Regions from separate parts of the Homo sapiens genome. Here region 2 is linked to region 1. The links come from fine-mapping of genetic effects on gene expression. Tissue or cell type: whole blood. Region 1 holds a variant in brackets; the other region holds the start of a gene. All regions are shown on one strand. Distances are from middle to middle.

Region 1 (8,106 bases):
CAGCTCAAATGGGAGTCCCTCGGAGATGCCTTCCCAAGACCATCAGTCTACAATACAAGGCAGCACTGTTTTTTATTTTCTTCAGAGCAATGTTTACTCTTGTCCATTTTTGTTTACTTGATTATTATCAAACTCTTCTGTCTAAAGGAGGACTAACCAGTAGAATTTTCTGCAATGATGGAAGTATTGTTATATTTGAGCTGTCCAATATAGTAGCCACTAGTTACCATATGACTCCTATGCACTTGACATGTGGCTAGTGTGAATGAGTAAAAGAATTTTTAATTTAATTTAATTTAATTTTAACTGATTTAAATTTAGATAGCCACATGTGGCCAGTGGCTACTGTACTGGACAACACAGTTCTAGTATGTAAGCTTTGAGAGAGCAGGGATTCAATCTTATGCTTTGCCATATCTCCAGAACCTAGAACAATTAAATACTTCTAACCAAGATATTCTTTGGAGGATGGAGTCTTGTCAGTGTCTAACATTTGGGTCAGATGTGGCCAGCAATGAGTCATTCATTGATTTGGCTTTTGTCTTAGGAACATCAAGATGAAGATCAAGGAGATCCCTTTTCTTCAAAACATTGCTGAAAAAGATAGTGTAACAACATTGCAGAAAAAATTTTAAAAGTAAGTAACCTCCTACAATTCTTCCAGCAAACATTGCAACTGTTTTAATTTTTTGCATACTGTCTTCCAGATTTTGTTCACATGCAGGTGTCTTTTCAATATTTTGCAGACACAGAGGACACCATCAAAACTTTGTCCTTGGGGGCTGGGCACGGTGGCTCATGCCTGTAATCCCAGCACTTTGGGAGGCCAAGGCAGGCGGATCATTTGAGGTCAGGAGTTTGAGACCAGCCTGGCCAACATGGTGAAACTCTGTCTCTACTAAAAATACAAAAATTAGCCAGGCGTGGTGGCGCGTGCCTGTAATCTCAGCTACTCTGAGGCAGGAGAATTGCTTGAACTCAGGAGGTTGAGGTTGCAGTGAGCCAAGATTGCGCCATTGCATTCTAGCCTGTGCGACACAGACTCCATCTCAAAAAACAAAAACAAAAACAAAAACAAATACCTTTGTCCTTGGAGAACATCTCCAATGCCCAGCCAGGTCTTAGCTCAGAAGGAACCTGACTATTGGAGTCATTTCCTGTGGCTCACCCAGTGAAGAGATCTTACCACCCCACAGCCACTTGGAGAGCCCCGTGCATTGAAGACACTGGGTTTGGCCCTGGGTATATAGCAATTGAAGATCATTTGTGAAGGACTGATATTGAAGAAGGCAGGGGCTATGCTGGCTTATTCATTCATCCAACAACTACTATACTGTGCTATTGAATATCATAAATATTTTCCTTATTTGTACAGGGTCTACTATTTTCCTTTTTATGGCTGAGTAGCAGACACACCAAAATCTACTAAACCTATTCTTTGTGGATTGTAGACCATTTAACTTATGCCCATTATTGGATCTTACAGAATTCTGTAATTAACTCTTCCTGCATGGAGCTTTTTACTTTTGTTGTATTATTTCCTTATAGTGTAGTAGTTGCTTATGTGTATAGGTTCTGGAAAGAGATGATCTGGTTTTTAACACTATCCATGGTAGTTTGGGCAAATTTCTTAACTTCTCTATATCTCAGTATTTCATTTATCAAGAAGGGTCACTAATAACACCTTCCTCATAGGATTGTTGTGAGAATTGAAATGAATAAATTACATGTAAAGTGCTTGGTTCTGAGTTAGTACTCTATACAGAATAACAACTGCTGTTATTATTAATTCTTGATCCAGGAGTAATTTCAAGGATATTAATATTTTCAAGACTGTTTCTAGATTGTGGTAATGGTTGTACAACTCTGCAAATATATTAAAAGTCATTGAACTATACACTCAATAAAAGCCTTTTGCTAATTATGGCTATTTTGTTTTCCCAAATGGTATTCCTATTTTCATTCCTATCCTCACCTCAATTTTATCACAATCTCATCAGAAATGGGGGCTACTATTTTAAATACAGTTTTCTTTATTTGAGAAAGGTCAAATAGAACCCTTAATGTGCTTTCTCTTGCATTTTTTACCTTATTACTAGCAACGAATGCATGTATTGTTTACTCTTTGCTTCCTATTGAATATTTGCTCCCTCTTGCTCTAACTCTGCCCATTTTACTTCTGTGGCTGAAGTCCTTTTTCTTGAATAATCTATTTCTTAGTATGTCTTAATTTACTAATAATAGTGAGTTGGTCTCTAAAAGGAAAGCTTTGAAAAAGCTAATTGTTTTCTCCTTAAAGGGCTCCTCAATATTCTACCAGACCTATGTTCTCATTAGCCAAGGGCCTTCTCCCAACATAGTCTTTCCATCCTAATGTACCTGCAGCATTTTTCCCAGGGCCTGCACTCTAAAGACTTGATAAGAAAAACTTTGAACACATGCTCCTTTCTTCTTGCTTTTCATATCTACTGATTGGGCTTGGAATTCTGCCAAGATAAACAGTGTCCTCTGCTCTTCAGGAAAATGCAAGGCTTCTCAACCATCTTTGAGGGGCCTGCTTCAGATGACAATTTCACAACATGTTCACAGGGCAAACTTGGATTGAGAAGACCCCCAATTTAGAGACAATAAATCTCCAACTGGAAAGAAAGCATCACTACTTTCCCTAGTACAGTAATGTTAATTGAAATATACAGAATGTTGTAACTCTTGCAGTTCCATTTAAGTGAACTAGGGATGACAGCAAAAGAGGCTGACAAGCTGGCCAAACAGGGACTTCCTAGCCCAGGGTCTGAGCTCTGTCAGTGTGCCCAAAGAGGATTAGGCTCAAAGAGTAGACTCATAATAACCAAACTCACAGGAGTTTGAAGTCTATACCTTCATAAAGGATTTCTGAAAGTTCTGTTTGTGACAGACGTGCCCTGAAGATGAGGCAAGGAGTGCAGGTGTTAGTCTGTTTATGTGGGAAAGGACTGGAAACTCTCTAAGGGGACAGAGTGTTCTTCGCTGGGTGTATATTGCTTGTTCAGATGATACCCTGAGACCACAGATGGGTCCTTGGCTTTTTCCTTCTGAATATACAACTGAAGATGTTAACCCAGGATAGTCTGTGGTTCAGGAGTGGCCACTAGCAGCACTTCCAGGCACCTCCATCCTGAGGGAGAACACTGCTAGGAGAAGGATGGGCAATTAGGGAGAATGAGGCTGTTGGGTCATTGCTTACTCCTTTGTCTATTGGTACCCAATAAATAAGCATACTTCCCCTTCTTAAAATAGCCTCATGTTAGGAGGGCTCCATTCAATTGTTTCTTGTGGGTGGATTTGAAAGAACTGAAATTTCTTCTATCCTTAATTCTCTTGTCTCACTCAGGAACGAAATATGCCAGTGTATTAATAAACATGCTCTTTGATGAGAATGCTCTTCTCTTCTCAGAAGCAAAATAAAATGCTAGCAGTTCAGGCCTGAAAAGCACTAAGATCCTGAAGCTCAGCTTTATTGCATTTTGGCTAACAACACTAGGCCGTTAGAAAAAAAGAGAATCTATTCAAGCAGACACAGTTCATTATTTACTTAGAAAAAATACAAACTCTTATTCTAAGTAAAATAAAAAATGCACACAAGATTATTTCACCATAACAATTATCAAAATGTGTAGACTTTACTCAAAGTAATTGAACTATACAGGCCTCAGCAATTCCTGATTGTTTGCTGGCTGCCCCAGAGTTATTTTTATGCCAGCTACCAGAATGTGATGACTTAGTAATAGTTAAATGGCATTTTGTAATAAACAGACAAGCTAAATTATAATGATCAATGGCCCTTAGTAAAATTATATGATTATAGCCATCAGAGAAAAAAAAATCCACAGGTAAGAAAGAATTGGATAACTGCATTAAATGTTTAATCAGGCTATGCAAAAATAACACAACAGAACACTTCTAGAGAATGTAGCTGGTCTCAAATATGCCTTCTATTTGGGAGTCATAAGTTTCCTTTTTTTTTTTTTCGAGACAGAGTTTTGCTCTTGTCGCCCAGGCTAGAGTGCAATGGTACGATCTTGGCTCATTGCAACCTCCGCCTCCTGGGTTCAAGCAATTCCTTGCCTCAGCCTCC[C/G]GAGTAGCTGGGATTACAGGCACCCACCACCACGCCCAGCTAATTATCCTTAAGAACTGCTCGGGGAGACAGATTTGAGTAATAATAAAACTCTGTTCTCCCGCACAGCAGGCTCTGCTTGAATTACTCTTTCTGTATTGCAATTCCCCTGTCTTGATGAATCGGCTCTGTCTAGACAGTGGGCAAGGTGAACTCCTTGGGCGGTTACACAACTGGGATTGGAGACGAACAGGAGAGTATTATAGTCAGAAGGAGGAGGCCCTGTGGGAGGAGTAAGTGTAGAATCTACCTGTCATGTTGGTGCTCTTAACACTGTGGATCAGATCAAAACCACCAGAAAGCTATGTATTTGTTAGTAGCCATACCTACCAGGGAGAAAAGACCAGTAATTATTACCAACATTTATTGAGCACTTACTATGAACCATGAACTTTCTTAGAGGTTATGAAAATTAACTAATTTAGTTAGTTAATTAAATTCAACCACCTTACGAAGTGAGCTCAATCATCCTCAATTTTCAATGTAGAAACCAAGACATGAAGTTAAGGGCAAAGTGAGACAACTAATAAGAAACAGAATTTGAAGCTAGTAATTCTGACTACAGAGCCAAAGAACCTAACCTGACTGCTACATATAGCTTGCAAGGTCTTAGGAGACTTTAGGAGCTCATGAGGCACAATGGCATCTCGGGGTCAGACACAGTTCTGAGGAATCAACTTTTGCAAAGGATTTTAATGGCCTCAGCCTGCACATACTAAACCATTCCATCCCAGTCCAGTGCCCCTTCTCCATCACAATCAAGTGCCATAATCAGTAGTTTATAGGCAGTAGTGGGTGGAGGATATTTTTGACTGAGAGAGCTGGGAAGAGGAAGACATTTTGTCCAAATTAAGAGGTGTTTGCTGCCTTACCTTCTTGTGAGATCTTGATGCTTGGAATGTTTTGGAACAAACATTCCAAGCAAATACATGTTGCTTGGAATGCAACACGTAGCATCTTCCCATAAGCCTTGGTAATGCTCTCAGATGGACACTCAAAAATACCTGATACCAGCTGGGTACAGTGGCTCATGTCTGTAATCCTAGCACTTTAGGAGGCTGAGGTGGGTGGATTACTTGAGCCCAGGAGTTCGAGACCAGCTTGGGCAACATAGCAAGACTCCGTCTCTAATTTTATTTTTATTTTTAAAAAAATATTTCTTAAAAAATAAAATAAAATAAAAAAGACATAAAAAAGAACACCGATACCACATACAACAAGGCTGTTCCTTCCCCAATATTTAGCAATATACCAAGAGAAAATAAATTCTGAGAACGTTTTCCAACAATTCTCCATACTGCAAAGAGGAGATTGTACAATATTACTGAAAGAAAAACAAAGAAACATAGAAACAGAAAGAAGATAAATCAGGTCAAGATGTCCAAGGACTGCAGACTTCTGTACCCAAAGCTGGGTGCCTGGTTTTCTTAATGACCATAATGTCCCATCTTCATTTCTACTTTATTTTTTGTGTTCTTGACGTAAGTGGATTCAAATACCTTTGTTTTTTATGAATTAGAACACAGATAAATCTATTTAATAAGTCATAAATTATTGACATAAAAATCTTTACTTATGAGAAATAAGTGCAGCATAAAGTGCAGACCAACAGTAGGAGCCAGATCATCTTATAAGTTTTTTTTTTAATTGAGACAGTCTCACTCTGTCGCCCAGGCTGGAGTGCAGTGGTGTGATCTTGACTCACTGCAACCTCCATCTCCCAGGTGCAAGCGATTCTCCTGCCTCAGCCTTCCCGGTAGCTGGGATTACAGGAACATGCCACCACACCTGGGTAATTTTTGTATTTTCACTAGAGACGAGGGTTTCACCATGTTGGCCAGGCTGGTCTCAAACCCCTGACCTCAAGTGATCCACCCTCCTCGGCCTCCCAAAGTGCTGAGATTACAGACATGAGCCACCGAGCCCAGCTTTTTTTTTTTTTTTTTTTGAGACAGGGCTTTGCCATGTTGCCCAGGTTGGCCTCGAACTCCTAGACTCACATAATCTGTCTGGCTAGGCCTCCTAAAGTGCTGGGATTACAGCCATACCCCCAGTTTTGTAAATAAAAAAGTCTAGGTCAGGTGAGGTGGCTCACCTATTAAAAATACAAAAATTAGCTGGGCGTGATGGCAGGCACCTGTAATCCCAGCTACTCGGGAGGCTGAGACAGGAGAATCACTTGAACCTGGGAGGCAGAGGTTGCAGTGAGCCAAGATTGCACCACTGCACTCTAGTCTGGGCAACAGAGTAAGACTCAGTCTCAAAAATAAACAACAATGACAACAACAAATGGGGGTAGGGAGTGATGGAATAAATTATTTTTATCAATTCTTTTTTTTTGAGACAGAGTCTGGCTCTGTCACCTAGGCTGGAGTGCAGTGGCATGCTCTCGGCTCTCTGCAACCTCCCCTCCCGGGTTCAGGCAATTCTCCTGCCTCAGCCTCCGGAGCAGCTGAGATTATAAACTTATAAGCTTGCCACCATGCCCAGCTAATTTTTGTATTTTTAGCAGAGATGGGGTTTTACCATGTTGGCCAGGCTGATCTCGAACTCTTGGCCTCAAGTGATCTGCTCGCCTTGGCCTCCCAAAGGGCTGGGATTACAGGTGTGAGCCACCACTCCCTGCTTCTTTTTGGCAATTCTTTCAGCTCCAAGATTTTGTGCTTCTATGGTGTCAGATTTATCAATATAACTTAATAGTTCTCTACTTCTTCTTTTTTTTTTTTTTTTTTTGAGGAATACCGCTAAAAAGGACAGGAAAGAAAATTGTACCATATCTGGGAATTTAAATTAAAAGTTGTAGGCAACATCTCCATATTTAGATACTGAAAAGAAAATACTCAAATTTCAGTTCAAGACAATATAAATGTGCCAAACTAGTTGTATTAACTAGGAGCCATGTATTGAGCAAAACAGTAGAATAGTTGGGCGTGGTGGCGTGCACCTGTAGTCCCAGCTACTCCAGAGGCTGAAGCGGGAGGATCACTTATGCCCAGGAGTTTGAGGCTGTCGCGTATTGTGATTATGCCTGTAAATAGCCACTGAACTCCAGCCTGGGCAACATAGTGAGACCCTGCTCTAAAATAATAACAATAATCTTAAGTTATCTTACTTTTTTTTTGAGCAGAGTCTCACTCTGTTGCCCAGGCAGGAGTGCATTGGTGTGATCTCTGCTCACTGCAACCTCTGCCTCTCAGACTCAAGCGGACAGGTGTGGCAGCTTACACCTATAATCCCAGCACTTTGGAAGGCTGAGGTGGGAGAATTGCTTGAGGCCAGGAGTTGAGAACCAGTCTGGGCAACAAAGCAAGACCCTGTATCTACCCCTGCTCCCCGCCAAGAAAGAAAAAGCTGGGTATAGTGGCGCATGCCTGTAGTCTCAGCTACTCTGGAGGCTGAGATGGGAGGATTGCTTGAGCCAAAGAGTTTGAGGCTGTAATGAGCTACGATCACACCACTGCACTACAGGTTGGGTGACAGAGCAAGACCTGTCTCAACCAAAAACTGAAAACTAAAGTCAGAGATGGAGGATGTCAGGAGTGTAAGAGACTAATCCATGAATTTTCAAAAAGTCTTGTCTAGAGTTAAGAGTGTATTATTGGCCGAGGGCAGTGCCTCACACCTGTAATCCCAGCACTTTGGGAGGCTGAGGTGGGCAGATCATCTGTGGTCAGAAGTTTGAGACCAGTCTGGCCAACGTGGTGAAATCTTGCCTTTACTAAAAATACAAAAATTAGCCAGGTGTGGTGGCTTCATGCCTGTAATCCCAGCTACTCAGGAGGCTGAGGCAGGAGAATCGCTTGAACATGGGGAGCAGGAGTTGCAGTGAGCCGAGATCTCACCATTGCATTCCAGCCTGGGTGACAGAGCGAGACTCCATCTCAAAAAAAAAAAAAAAAGAAAGAAAGAAAGAAAGTGCTATTAGGTATAATTTACAATATATAATTTAGATT
Region 2 (8,106 bases), 27 kb before region 1:
ACTTTACATGAATTTTTACCTCAATTTTAAAAAACAGAAGAAAGAACATTTTTTGCTTAGCTCCTGTTTATCAAGTAATAACAAGCTTCAAAAGTCCATACAGGAGCTGGGTGTCATGGCTCACGTCTGTAATCCCAGCAGTTTGGGAGGCCGAGGTGGGTGGATCACAAGGTCAGGAGCTCGAGACCAGCCTGGGCAACATGGTGAAACCCCATCTCTACTAAATATACAAAAATTAGCCGGGTGTGGTGGCACATGTCTGTAGTCCCGCTACTTGGGGGGCTGAGGCAGGAGAATCGCTTGAAACTGAAAGGTGGAGGTTTCAGTGAGCCAAGATCATGCCACTGCACTCCAGCCTGGGCAACAGAACAAGGCTCCATCTCAAAAAAAAAAAAAAAAAAAAATCCATATAGGCCAAGCATGGGCTCATACCTATCATCCCAGCGCTTTGGTAAGACGAGGCAGGAGGATTGCTTGAGGCCAAGAGTTCGAGACCAGTTTGGGCAACATAACGAGACCCTGTCTCAAAAAAACCAAAAAGCCCATATAGGATAATTAAGACACCAAATTTACAAATGAAAAATAAGCAGAGGTACACATTCCCTTCCCCTATCACAGGGGATATTTGGGGTGAACAGATGCAAAGTTTTCTCTTCAGGGCCAGGACTAGGGTGAGGCAAATTAAGCATCTAGGACAGCGGTCTTCAACCTTTTTGGCACCAGGGACCAGGTTTGTGGAAGACAATTTTTCAAAACTGTTCCACCTCAGATCATCAGGCATTTGCTAGATTCTCATAAGGAGCACCCAATCCAGATCCCTCACATGCGCAGTTCACAACAGCATTTGAGCTCTTTGAGAATCTAATGCCACTGCTGATCTGACAGGAGGTAGAGCTCATGGTGGTAAGGCTGCAGGCTCACTCACCTCCTGCTGTGTGGCTAGTTCCTAACAGGTCACAGACCCAGGGAGTTTGGGACCCCCGCTCTAGGGCACAAAATTTAAGGAGGCACTCATTCTCAGGTTTATGTAAGTGTTGACCCTGAATTTGAGAGTGAGTGCCTCCTTAAATTTGCACTTCAGGAGCCTCTTCATCTTGTCCTAGCCCCAGACTTGTTTCTTCTATTTCAGGGAACTAGAACTAGGAACAGGAAGCAAACTGGCTACTGAGTAGAAGTGGACTGAGATCATTTCCCATTTTGAACTTACTTATTCCATTTTCAACCTGCGAGAAAGCTTAAGCACCAATTTTAGAACAAGAAAAGGCTACTGCCTAGAGAATTGTCTATTCCTTTTATTTCTCTGAAAACAACGTTCTCCACACTGAGCTGTAATTGTAGGTTACTTAACTGCCTCTGCCTCCCCTGTAACTGACTGTGAGCTCTGGGAAAACACAAAGCTCCTACCCTGTGTCCTCTTTTGACCCCACTGTAGTAGCCCCAGGGCCTGTTGGAGAACCTTGCAAGTGTTTGTATTTGCTGACTCTAATTACTCTGAATATTTTTCTGTAACCCATCCCAATAAAGATCTCACTATCACGACTCTCCCAAAACTGCTTTTGTCAAGATTAATCATCTTTATATTGCTAAATCCAATAATCAGTTGTCAGCCTTTATCTTCCTTGACCCATTAACATTTGATACAGTTGATCATGACCTATCAACATTTGATGCAGTTGATCATGCCCTTCTTCCTGAAACATTTTCTTCACTTGGCTTCAAGGACACTGCGCTTTCCTGACCCCTCCACTTCACCGGCTATTTGGTTACAGCCTCCTTTGCTAGTTTCTCCTCATTTCCTCCACCTCCAAATGGAATGGAGTGCCTCAGGGCTTAGTCCTCTGTGTACGCTCATTTCCTAGGTGGTCTCACCTAGCCTTTAACTACTAGCTGTATGCCGAAGACTCCCTACTTAAATCTCCAACCCGTATCTCTGTCCTAGACTCCACACTCCAAATGCCTCTACAACATCTCCTGGGTGTCTCATGAGGATCTCAAGTTTAGTAAGCCCAAAAGCAGACTCTTGATCTTTCCCCCACCCTAAGTCAGCTTGTCCTACAGGCTTCCCCATCTTGGTAAAATGAAAACTTCACCCTTCCAATTGTTCAGGCCAAAACCTGTGGAGTCATCTTTGGCTCCTTTCTTTCTCTCTTATTCCAAGTCTGATCTGTTAGCAATCCACCTTCAAAATCTATCCAAACTTTGACCACTTCTCAACACCTCTACTGTTACTCTACAGTTCCAAGTCATCATCTCTTGTTTAAATTATTGCAATAGTTTCCTAACCTGTCTCCCTGTGACCATCCATGACGCCCTACGATCTATTCTTAATACAGCAACTAAAGTGATTCTTTAAAAATGTGTCAGATCATGTCACTCATCTGCTCAAAAAGTTCCCCATGACACTCTAGCCAAAGTCCCTGCATTAGTCTTACTAGGCCCAATAACTTCTGTACCTGCCCCTCCCTTCCAAACTAAACTCCTAACTTCTTCCCCTTGCTTACTCATTTCCAGCCACGCTGATCTGAATGCTGTCCCTTGAACACACCAGACATACTTCCACATCAGGGCTTTCCCATTTACTGTTCCTTCTACCAGACAGCCAAATGGCAACTGTCCTCATCTACCTCAGTTTTGTACTCAGATGTCACTTTTTCAATGAATTCTTTCCCAACTTTGCTTTATTAAAAGTGCAAGCCCCCACCTCCAGTTTTTATCCTACACCCTACTATATTTTTCTCTGTTGCACATATCACCATTTGATATGTTATGTTTTACTTGTTAATTTCTTTATAATCTGCTTCTCCTACTGGAGAGTAGGTTCCAAAAGAACAAAGAATTTAGTCTGTTTAGTTCCCTACTGTATCCTCAGCACCTAGTAGGTGCTCAATAACTGTGTTAAATGAATATAGGTTGAGCATCCTAATCTGAAAATGGGAAACCCAAAATCTGAAAGTTTTTCAGCGCAGACATGATGCCACAAGTGGAAAATTCCACACCTGACCTCATGTGATGGGTTGCACAAAATTATTTAAAATATTGCATAAAATTACCTTCCAGCTATGTGTATAAGGTGTATATGAAAAATAAATAAATTTCCTGTTTACACTTGGGTCCCACCCCCCAGATCTCTTGTATATATGCAAATATTAAAAAAAAAAAAATCCGAAATGCTTCCCAGTCCCAAGCATTTCAGATAAGGGTTACTCAATTTGTAAATGAACTGTAGGTGCCTAACAAATCTCTGTTCAATGTGTGAAGGAATAAATAAAAGGGTAGATGCGCCAGTCATATAGCCAGCCGCAGCTCACCTAGCCTGACCAAGTGAGAGATGCTGCATCCTGACGCCACTACTGTAAGGATTAATCAAGGACAGCATGTAAAACTTCAACGCCGTGCGCGGCTCTCTCTTTCCTTCCCCTTCTCTCTTTCCAGTGAAGGGGACGGCTCCTTCCCCTTCTCTCTTTCCAATGCAGATCCTTCAAATCCTAAAATGTCGAGGCAGCCGCGTGCTGTGGGACCACGTCCTCGCCCTCTACACCCGCATTTTGCAGATGCGAACCCAGGCTAGGAAGAGAGAGAATCGCCAAACCCTTTTAAATTTCTCACTCACTCACCCATCCCATGCCAGATCACCAACGGCAGCGGCGCCGGCGGGTCCAGATGCTGCAGCGCCCGAGAAGCGCAGGTCCATGGCAGGAGAGCCACAGCCAAGAGCCACAGGCAGCCGGGCGACGCCATCTTCGCTGTGTCACATGACCGCGGGCGCGAGACTCCGGGAACCGCGCTCCGCCCGCCTGGGCGTGGCGCCGCCGGTTGCAGATCGCAACCTGCGCATCCCGAACGGATGCCCAGCCTGATGGGCGTCGGCCCTACCCTGGAGCTTTCAGCGCGACAGGTCCCCCGCCAGACCCCGCTGGCCGAGTGGGGCTCTGCGCTCTCGTAGACCGCCCTCTGCGGTGAATCAAAATAATTGCTAACATATATTCAGTGCTGATCAGATGCTATCAGGCACTATTCTTACAACCTTTAACTAATTCACTCTTCATAACAATGCTGTATGCACTTCTCCCCCTGACAGGTGAGGACACTGAGGCACTGCGAATTGGCACTGAGTAAGGTGCCCAAGGTCACAGAGATAGCAAATTGGTGGTTCCAAAGTCGTTGCTCTTCACCACTGCCCTGTACTGCCTTTGCAAGAAACATGCACAGAGGAAGGAAGAAAGAAGGAGGGACGGTTTCCAGCCAGGACCAATCATGGCAGGGTGTGGGGTTTGTTCTGGATATTGAAGGAGAGGTAGGATTTCAACAAGCAAAGATGAAATTCAGAAGGACTGAGATGAGCTAAGGTAGAGAGGAGAAAGACAACTGTGTTTTCTAGAAATGTCGGGACTTCAAGACGGACGAAAGCATATGTTGGATGCATAAGAGTGAGGGGGAAACCCATGGCCACTAACTGGCCTAATCTCAGCTGGATTATTTCAAGGGTCTCTCATCAACCATTTCCTTTTCCATTCTCTCCTCTTTAATTCATTTTATGCTCTATTGCCACATTCATCCCTCAATCCACCTTCATAATATCAGTTCCCTGCTCAAGTTTTTTTTCAACAAAACATCAAAAAATAGTTTAAATAATTTATAAAGAAATTAGAGTGTATCCACTATACAATGGAATAATATGAGGCCAGTTTTATAAAAAATGAGTATAGGGCCGGGCGCGGTGGCTCACTCCTGTAATCCCAGCACTTTGGGAGGCTGAGGTGGGCAGATCATCTAAGGTAGCGAGTTCGAGACCAGCCTGACCAACATGGAGAAATCCCGTCTCTACTAAAATTACAAAATTAGCCGGGTGTGGTGGCGCATACTTGTAATCCCAGCTACTCAGGAGGCTGAGGCAGGAGAATCTCTTGAACCCGGGAGGCAGAGGTTGCGGTAAGCTGAGATCATACCATTGTACTCCAGCCTGGGCAACAAGAGCAAAACTCTGTCTCAAAAAATAAGAATAAAAAATAAATAAAAAGAGAGTACAGCCCAGGCAGCATAGCAAGACCCCATCTCTACAAAAAAAAAATTTTTTTTTAATTAGCCAGGGGTGGTGGTATGTGCCTGTAATCCTAGCTACTGGGGAGGCTAAGGTGGGAGGATCACTTGAGCCCAGGAGTTCAAGGCTGCATTGAGCTATGATCTCGCCATTGCACTGAGCTATGATCTCGCTGTTGCCCTGGGCAACAGTGAGACCCTGTCTCTCTCAAAAAAGAAAAATGAGGTAAATTTACATAAAGTGACATGAAAAATGCCCTTAATATGTTGTAAAAGAAAAGTCGATTACAAACCCACGGTCTGTAATCTCTTCTATTCCATGCCATTGGGACTAGAGGTAAGTTGTTAGTTGAAAAGTCGATTAAAATGCAGAATCCACTGGGCGCACTTTGGGAGGCTGAGGCAGGTGGATCACCTGAGGTTGGGAGTTTGAGACCAGCCTGGCCAACATGATGAAACCCCATCTCTACTAAAAATACAAAAAATTAGCCGGGCATGGTGGTGGGTGCCTGTAATCCCAGCTACTCAGGAGGCTGAGACAGGAGAATCACTTGAACCCAGGAGGCAGAGGGTGCAGTGAGCCAAGATTGAGCTACTGCACTCCAGCCTGGGCAACAAGAGTGAAACTCTGTCTCAAAGAAAAAAAAATGCAGAATCATAAAGCATTATACAGTACAGTATACAGTTTTGTTTTAAGAAAAATAAGCTTATTGTATAAGCATTTTATTTTAACTTAAGACTTACAAATTGAAGTAGTTTCAGGATTTTTCTGTGAATATAGCCCGCTCAATGAAGTTTCCTGCCTTTAATGAACTATTTATAATTTCTTTAAAGGTTTCTTTAAACTGGAGCAATAACTGAAAGACACTTGTGAAGCAATCTGAATGCAATTTTTTTTTTTTTTTGAGACAGGGTCTTGTTCTGTCCCCCAGACTGGAGTGCAGTGGCGTGATCTTGGCTCACTGTAACCTCCACCTCCCGGGTTCAAGCGATTCTCGTGCCTCTGCCTCCCGAGTAGCTGGGATTACAGACACACCACCAACATGCCCCGCTAATTTTTTGTGTTTTTTGTAGAGACAGGGTTTCGCCATGTTGCCCAGGCTGGTCTCGAACTCCTGAGCTCAGGCAATCCGCCCCCCTCAGCCTCCCAAAGTTCTAGGATCACAGCTGTGAGCCATTGTGCCAGACCAACATTCTTTTTGTTTTTTATTTTTGATTCAGGGTCACATATGCAAGTTTGCTATATAGGTAAGTTGTATGTCAAGGAGGTTGGGTGTACGTTTTATTTTGTCACTGCCATAATGAACATAGTACCCAATAGGTAACTTTTCATTTCCACCCTCATGTAGGCCCCAGTGTCTGTTGTTCCCTTCTTTGTGTCCATCTGTACTTAATGTTTAGCTCCCACTTATAAGTGAGAACATGTGGTATTTGGTTTTGTTTTCCTGCATTAGTTTGCTTAGGATAATGACCTAAGCAGTTCCATCTATGTTGCTGCAAAGGACATTATCTCATTCCTTTTTTGGCTGTGTAGTATGCTATGGTGTATACCTACCACATTTTCTTTATCCAGTCTACTGTTGATGGATACTTAGGTTAATTCCATGTCTTTGCTATTATGAATAGTGCTATGATGACTTTTTTTTTTTTTTTTTTTTTTTGCGACAGGGTCTTGCTCTATTCCCCAAGTTGGACTGCAGTGACACAATCATAGCTTACTGCAGCCTGGAACTCCTGGGCTCAAGGGATCCTCCCGCCTCAGCCTCTCAAAGTGCTGGGATTACAGGTGTGAGCCACAGTGTTTGGATGTGAAATTATTCTAGATGGAAGACTTTCCACTCTCAGATTTCCGACCCAGAGTTACTTTAACAATTTTTTTTAACAACTTGCCTTTAACAAGCTTTTCCAATGCATTCAACTTAGTTTTCACAGAAACATCTCTTTTCTCTTTATGCTCATATTTCATGTTTTCAAAAATTTAACTAAATTATGATAGCAAATATCACCGATATATTAATAAATAAATAAAATAAGCCCAAAGGCATTTAGTAAGCAAGTAGCTCAATTGACAGGAACAGAACTACCCAAGAGTTCTGAAAAGCAGCCTCTAGCCATGTGGGCATGCTGTGGGCATAGGTAAGTAGGTAAGTACATTTTAGAACTGGGAGAGTAAGTTAAACAGGGCATAAGAAAATAACTATGTATTTATGTACATACATATATGATGGTTGTACAACTCTATAAATTTACTAAAAATCATTGGTTTGTACACATAAAATGGGTGACTTTTATGGCATGTGGAATATATTTCAATAAAGCTGTTCTTTTTTTAAAGAAGACATCTGTGTATTTATATATTTGTACATTATCACTGAAAGGTCAAAGCATTGCCAAGAAAAAAGAGGCTGGGTGCGGTGGCTCACGCCTGTAATCCCAGCACTTTGGGAGGCTGAGGCGGGTGGATCACGAGGTCAGGAGATCGAGACCATCCTGGCTAACACGGTGAAACCCCGTCTCTACTAAAAAATACAAAAAATTAGCCGGGCGTGGTGGCAGGCACCTGTAGTCCCAGCTACTCGGGAGGCTGAGGCAGGAGAATGGTGTGAGCCCGGGAGGCGGAGCTTGCAGTGAGCCAAGATCGAGCCACTGCACTCCAGCCTGGGCGACAGAGCGAGACCCCATCTTAAAAAAAAAAAAAAGAAAGAAAGAAAAAAGAAAGAAAATAAATATTTAAAAAGATCTGGAGACCGTTAAAAGTAATATTCTTGAGGGCAGTATTACAAGGAACTTTCACTTTTTACTTTATATACTTGTGTTTGGTTTGAAATTTTACAGCAAGGATATACAATTTTTATAATAAAAATGGAAAATATACACACATTAAAAATTATTAGACTTCTAGATTAAGAAAATGGAGTAAAGCTATCTCACAGACTCTGTTTCAACCAATATCTAGGAAAGTTTAAAAAGTTAAAATTGTATCCACGGCAAAAAAACGTCAGTATCTTAAATGTCAGTAAGTGGTGGTCAAGGAAATAAATAGAAGATTCTGGGCTGGAGCATGTCAAG

What was found. PIP is the estimated chance that this variant, and not a neighbour inherited with it, causes the effect.
Region 2: PPT1 starts here. The variant in region 1 is fine-mapped to the expression of PPT1 in whole blood (TOPMed, PIP above 0.99).

The regions. Positions count from the first base shown.
Region 1 is chr1:40,120,559-40,128,664 of GRCh38, forward strand. No RefSeq gene overlaps it. Among named protein-coding and RNA genes, the nearest start is that of PPT1, 27 kb to the left of the region's middle. The variant C/G (reference allele first, on the strand shown) is at 4,115.
Region 2 is chr1:40,093,501-40,101,606 of GRCh38, forward strand. PPT1 (palmitoyl-protein thioesterase 1) reads right to left here and starts at 3,752. Exons shown (of 9, transcript NM_000310.4): 1 at 3,615-3,752. The coding sequence starts at 3,738. RefSeq lists an enhancer at 3,487-3,616.